Homo sapiens: one gene and its partner. Changing the gene in region 1 together with any one later gene gives a genetic interaction. Each region holds a gene or a part of one and is shown in the gene's direction. Other genes may lie near its edges.

Evidence for each region. Genes that interact genetically often act in the same process or in processes that back each other up.
Region 2: changes in ADAT2 (region 1) and ATP1A1 together harm fitness less than expected from each alone (positive genetic interaction), as found in Homo sapiens cells (one large-scale study listed by BioGRID).

What each region holds. Positions count from the first base shown.
Region 1 is NC_000006.12:143,426,696-143,430,195, reverse strand, and holds part of ADAT2 (tRNA-specific adenosine deaminase 2), read left to right. Parts: intron 1-1,511; coding exon 1,512-1,584; intron 1,585-1,689; coding exon 1,690-1,733; 3' UTR 1,734-3,500. UniProt on the Homo sapiens protein: Probably participates in deamination of adenosine-34 to inosine in many tRNAs.
Region 2 is NC_000001.11:116,400,744-116,404,243, forward strand, and holds part of ATP1A1 (sodium/potassium-transporting ATPase subunit alpha-1), read left to right. Parts: intron 1-117; coding exon 118-263; exon of another isoform or gene 264-386; coding exon 387-517; intron 518-810; coding exon 811-912; intron 913-3,140; coding exon 3,141-3,232; intron 3,233-3,500. UniProt on the Homo sapiens protein: This is the catalytic component of the active enzyme, which catalyzes the hydrolysis of ATP coupled with the exchange of sodium and potassium ions across the plasma membrane.

The sequences.
Region 1 (3,500 bases):
ACAGCAGGAAGCAGGGGGCAGCTGTGACGGGACTGGCTGGCAGTGGTTAGGATGGTAAAATGCTGAGAAGCCAAGGGAGGCAAGAGCGGTCAGACAGAGCAGGTGTGGCCAGTTGCCTCCAGGACTGCAGAGTTGAGGAATCTGAAAGGAGGCAAGTGTTTTGGTCAGTAGGGACCTGGGGATTTCTGAGAGGGCAGACTCAGTGAAGTGCTGGGAACTCAAGCCAGTGAAGATGAGGCCACTGAGGAGTGAAGGCAGGAGCAGGGTGTCAGCCTTTGACGGGACAGGGTGGATGGAAGGTTATTTGTTATGGCGAAGGTTTATGCAGGTGTCGGAGGCCCAGGCAAGGGCAGACTGAAGACACAGGAGAATGGGAGGTTCGTTCTGAACAGCATCTCACAGTAGCTGGTCCTCCTGTCCTCTGTGCCTATGCTTTCTGGCTCCTTCCTTCCAGATGCTCATTGTGTCACTTCATGCACTTCAGAAGGGTGCTTGGTTTTAAGTCCAAACTCTTCTGACAAGCTTTCAAAGCCGTACATATTTTTACCCCAATTTTTTGTCTTTCTTTCCTTATGCTTCCTTAATAGTCTCCTCCTCTGTCAGCTGATTTCCTCACACACAACCCAGGCTTCTTCTTGCCCTTTCCCTGAAATGCTCTGCTTAGCCTCTTTAAATATTCTCTATCTCTAAGGCAAGTTCAAGTTTCATGTTCTTCAGGTAATATTTCATATAACACTCCTTACTGTTAGCACAATTTCTTATTTATTCTTTCACATGTTATGATTTCTTTTCCCCAGTTAGATGCTAAAGATAGAACAAGCTGTATTTTATTTTTTAAAATCCTCTGTAGCAAGGGTTGATAAACTTTTTCTGCAAAGGGTTAACTAGTAAATATTTCACCCTTTGTGAGCCGCTTACATCTCTGTCACCTAGTCTTTTTTTTTCTTTAACAAAGCTTTTAAGATATAAAAACCATTCTTAGCTCACAGTTCTCAGCTATGGAACAGATTTGGTCCACCAAGTATAATTTGCCAACCCTAGCTCTATAGCATGGAATGCTTAATGGACCACTAGTAAATAGGAGCAGATAAAAATAACTAATGCTTAATGAGCACTTATGATGTGCCTGGTATTTAACAGGTATTATCTCACTTAATCCTCACAAAATCCCCTGAAGTAAGTGCTATTATTGCCAGCATTGTATAAATAAGGCATGGAGAGTTTAAGTGCCTAACCCAAGATCACAAAGCTGGTAACTTCTATAATAGTTAATGGATGAATAACAGTTGATTGGGAGTGATGCCTAATAACAGTTGATTGGGAGTAATGAAAAAGATGATATATCAAACATCTTTTGGAAGTGTACCTCCTTACCCATGTTACTAATATCCCCAAAGTTTATTAACATCTGAAATCTGTTTACATAATCATGTATATATATGTTGTTTTTATGGGATACAGCACACATTTTCATAGGCCTATGTTTATTCTCAACTTTCTCATTCCATCAGTGTATCCCTGGATATCGGGCTGAGGAAGCAGTGGAAATGTTAAAGACCTTCTACAAACAAGAAAATCCAAATGGTCAGTTTTCTGTTGTGGATAATGTCCTTCCCTTAAATCCATACAAAGAGAATCTGCTATGAGCTTACCTCTTCATTTTCTTTTTCTTTTCTATTCTTTTCACAGCACCAAAATCGAAAGTTCGGAAAAAGGAATGTCAGAAATCTTGAACATGTTCTGATGAAAGAACCAAGTGACCCAAAGTGACCTGGACAAGATTCATAGACTGAAAGCTGTTGACATCGTTGAATCATATGTTTATATATTGTTTTTAATCTGCAGGAAAATGGTGTCTCTCATCATTTGCTCTGTTAAGGGAACAAATTAGCACTTTTTAGAAGTCTGACAATTGTAAACAGTTATTAGCTTTTCCAGAAGCTGATTCCCATTTTAAGATGGGGGAAAATTAAGGTTTGAGGTTTTAGAAATTAGCAAGTAGTGCATACCCTTCTAGCCACAAGTGCCCAGTCCAGGCAAGTGCTGACTTCTTAGAGAATGTGTGGCCAGACCCAGGGACCTGGAGTGTGTTTGGACTGCAGTTTGCCACCCTGAGAACACCTTCTCCAGGACTGGCATTTCAGAATCAGATTCTTCATTTTTTGCAGCTACGATGTTCTTCCAGGGCACTGGGGGCTGTGACTTCTCTCTAAATTGTATATAAGTTGTGTATATAGAGACCATAATTATATGGTCCTTAGAAAAGACTTTGCTTTTATAAAGCATTTAGAAAAAATGCATACTTTTAAAACAAGTGCTTGAGTTGTCACTTAAAAATTATAGCATATTGCTATAATAAAACCTTATTTATGTCTTATTTGAAGATGAATAGTCTTAAAAGATAAAGACATAAATGGGACAATTGTTATTGAGCAAAAAACCAAATTATCCCACCCTCATGGAGCTTATATTCTAGCAAGGGGAGATGGATATGATAGATTACACAGTTTATTGGAGGACAATAAGAGTTATGGCAAAAAGCAAAAGGAACACAGGGTAAAGGGGATAGGTGCCATTTGGTGGTGAGAATGCTGACTGAAAAATAGAATGATCAATTTAATCTGAAACAAATGGTTATTTCTTTTATAATCCATATAATAAATTTAAAATCTAAAATGTAAAATTTTGAACACAACACTGGAAAGGGTATCCACAGCAGGAAGTCCCCAGTTCACCTCCATGACTACAGGGCAGCTTTGCACAGCCCTCTGGGCGCACTGTGTGCCTCTGCCCAGAAGGGGGCCTCGCCGTTCCACCAGAAGCTCAGCTCCAGGCCCTGGAGGGGCTGCTGCTCCTCAGTTGCATTTCTTCAGTAGATTCATTTCCTTGATGCAAAGCATCTGTATTTGTTGGTTCTGTCATTTGAGCGATGTCTCTGACTTGTTTGTTTTGAATTACATTACAGGCTGGAATGTAATTGTGGTGAAAGTATTTTTATATTGCTGAGAGTAGCAGCTAATCACAGTTACATGCTTCAGAGGACTTATAATTGCTTGGTTTTGTGTGTGTGTGTGTGTGTGTGTGTGTGTGTGTGTGTGTTTAACTGCATTTGAAAAGTTTTATGGAGAATATGCATGATTTTAAATCTGTGATAATGTTACATGCACCTTCAATTTCATCCACTTTAAAAATTATCTTCTCATTGAATTTTAGTGCTTCTACTAGTTTGTTCCTTTTTGCAGTTGGTCGTAATTCATTTCTGGCTTCTTATGCTTTCCTGCAAGCAGATTTCATTGCATTTATTGTGTTCATATCATTTTCTTGGGGATTATTTGTAGGACAACCAACCTGGAGTTTTGCCTCTCTAGAGTACCACCCAGTAAGTCTGGCTGAGCATCTTATGTCCAGTAGGTTCTTGGTAAACATTTGCTAAATGAAATTACTGATTGAAATTTGGGGAAAAGTGAATAAGAAGACTATCTAGGACAAAAAGCCAAAGC
Region 2 (3,500 bases), on another chromosome or scaffold:
CAGGGGGAAACACTCCTCCATATGTGCTCTCCCAGGCCTGCTGCAGTAATCAGCTGAAGGCTATACAGGTACCCTTGTGTGTGAGGTTCTAGTAATTGGGTTGTTTTCCCAACTTAGGAATGATCCAGGCCCTGGGAGGCTTCTTTACTTACTTTGTGATTCTGGCTGAGAACGGCTTCCTCCCAATTCACCTGTTGGGCCTCCGAGTGGACTGGGATGACCGCTGGATCAACGATGTGGAAGACAGCTACGGGCAGCAGTGGGTGAGTGGGCACCTCTGACCTGACCAGTGTCAGAGCTCCTCAAGCCCCAGAAGACTGAGGCCACACTGCCACCAGCCATGCAGGTGAAGAGCCAGAGCTCATCTTCTGTCTTCTGCATTTCAGACCTATGAGCAGAGGAAAATCGTGGAGTTCACCTGCCACACAGCCTTCTTCGTCAGTATCGTGGTGGTGCAGTGGGCCGACTTGGTCATCTGTAAGACCAGGAGGAATTCGGTCTTCCAGCAGGGGATGAAGTAAGTAATGAAGGACATGTCAAGGCCTTGGCTCAAAGAAGGGGACTGGTGATTTGTAAACCCTTTGCCAAAAACTAAACATATGACACATATAGCCAGGTTTCTGGAATCTCTAGTTTATAGAGCAAATTTAGGAAGCAAGAAATGTAGCTTTCTAGTTTTTTCATCTGACCTCCAAGTTTTCAAGTACAGCTAATACATAAAGATGTTGATCTGCCATTTTAATGCATAGCATTAGAAGATAAACCTTTATTTGCACCTTTTAAGTTTTTTCTCCCCTACTTTGATTTTAGGAACAAGATCTTGATATTTGGCCTCTTTGAAGAGACAGCCCTGGCTGCTTTCCTTTCCTACTGCCCTGGAATGGGTGTTGCTCTTAGGATGTATCCCCTCAAGTAAGTTGATCCTCTGGTAGCTCCAAAAAGTATGAAATAGTATGTGTGGCTTTTCCCCCCATTACTTGTGGTAATAGTTGTTATTTTCAGAATTTTGAGTGGTATGTACAAAAATTCCTATGGGTTGGAAAACTGTGAAAGCTTGACATGTCAGTAAATCAGACTAACAAATCCTGAGGCTTCCATGATAGCAGCTAGTGTTTAGGATTTGGCCCAAGATAAGATAAAGCCACACAGGCTCTAGCTCCATGGAACTGCTCAACAGCGAACTGCATTGAGCACTCAGGTCTGCCACAGCTGTAGTCCAGTTGTCTTTAGAGGCCAACTGGGGGTATGCTGGAGCGTAGGCGCCCAGGCTCAAATCTTGATTTGCTTGCTTAGTCACTGTCCCATTACAAGTCATCCACCTTTCTGAGACTCTGAATACTCTGCTCTCAAAGAAAGAAGGTTGGAGAAACAGATCTGAGGTCCCTTTTACTTTATAATCAGTCATGGGTAGAGTTGATCAAAGGAAGCATACTGCTAGTCTTTGGCCTTAAACACAGTGAATGACTCTGCATTTCAGATAAACTTGAATTTTCAAAGAGGGTTTATCACAAACTCCGTTAGTTTTTTGCAACATTGAGTATGTTTGGTGATACCTGGTTGAGGTTAAGCAACTGCAACTTGATTAAAACGTGCAAAGCCACAGATTGTGGGACCCATTTACAAGTTCCTTTGAAGCTTTTGATTTAAAGCATTAGTCTCCTTTGAATTCCTGCTGTCCTCATCCTTGCTCAGACCCGTCTGGACCATCTCTCAATCCCCTGTTGCCAGCACTTCCTTCAGCTCATCTTATCCCTAAAGTAACCAAAACCCATCAGCCTCATTCACTTCCTGTGGGTTATGTGCAGACATCGTCTGTGGTGCAAGATGAGACTGGCATCCAGAGTCAGTCTCATTGTCCCAACCTGTCTTTATAGCTTTCTCTTGTACCCCTTACCCATCCAAGCTCATGTTAGGTGAATTCGGCTTTCTTCCTCTGCCTTTGTGTTTGGTAAGATCCTTCCTCCCCACATCCCTCCTTCTGTTCCCTCTTACCCTGCCAATCCTGATAGTCCCTTCAGGGCCGGTTTCCTTGGAGCTTGTCCCTCCAGGGCCTGTGCACTTGCACCTCTTCTCTGGCATTACTTGTTGCTTGTCATTTCACCTCCCTGCTAGGTTTTAATCTAGAAGGCATGGGCCACAGTGTCTTTCTTCTCTGTGCATCCCCAGCTCCCTACACAAAGCTGGTGTACAGCAGGGGCCAGCCATCTCCAAATTGAATTCTGTCAGCTTGGGCCATTATGTATCAAGATGGGGCTTGGAGAGGTCACAGAGCTTTCCAAAAAGGCTGGTGGAAAATTACACTGAAAAGGGGGCATTTCCATCTTCTGGGTCCTTCCCTGGTTTTTTTGCCACCACCAAAGAGATTGTTCTGACAGGTTCTGCCCAATTTTGGAAGGTGGTTCAGTTATTCGGTGACTGAGTCAAATGAGATCATCTCTCTTAGCTGCCTTGTCAGACACACAGGAAGAAGAGGAGACCACCGGAGTCCTGCCCAGGGACAGCCTTTCTCACACCATAGCAGGGAGCTGGTGATCACGGAGGCTGCCTGGAGCCTGTCAGCAGGCTAGAGACTGTGTGGCTCAGCCTCCAGGCCCCTTGGAAGCCTTCGGGCTCAGCTTTTTTCAGTCCCCAGGACCAGGCCTCAGAACACAGAGCTGATATCCCAAATGCTGTTGTCAGAGATCAAATTTGGGGAATGCATAAACTGGTTTTGACCCACACTGGCAGGTCTTTATCTTCAAAATGCTGGGATATTAGGCAGATGGTCTTAAAAAGCTTCTTAAACACTTTAGAAATGAAAGAAAGAAAATGTTCAGTTGCTCTGGGATGGTTAACAGAAAAGTACTCTGCTCATCCTATAAACCAAGTCTTATGAAATCCAAACTGAAGATGAGTAGGGATTCCATTACAAAGTCTGCAGACTGATTTCCTCTGCGTCTCTAGGCCCTGGGCACATGGAGTAGCAATCTGTTTTAAGACATTTTTATTTGTTCTGTTAATGACTCAGTAGTTAACTGTGACTGTACTTGGCTTCTCCTTTCAGGCTGATTATTTCATTGTCACTGGTGATGTGCAATTTCTCTTTCTTTATTTGAACTGTGTTCGTGTGCATATAAATTGGTACCTTACTCTATTTCCAGACCTACCTGGTGGTTCTGTGCCTTCCCCTACTCTCTTCTCATCTTCGTATATGACGAAGTCAGAAAACTCATCATCAGGCGACGCCCTGGCGGTAATTATGGGCATTCTGACTTTGGTTGGAGGAGGAGTGGGAGGGGCTATAGTTCTATTGGTTTTTTGTTTCCCTCAAGGTGTCTAGGCTCCCTCAGTGGTCAGTCTGATTAGCTAAGGTGACTGGACCAGCAAACTGACCATAGTCACATCTTCAGAATGTAGATCTCAGTTACAGTTTGAGGACTGGTCATGTTTTAGACTTTAAAATACAAACCAAGTATGATTTAGTGAAAACTTGTCAGAATCTAAACCATCTTTCCAGGTAA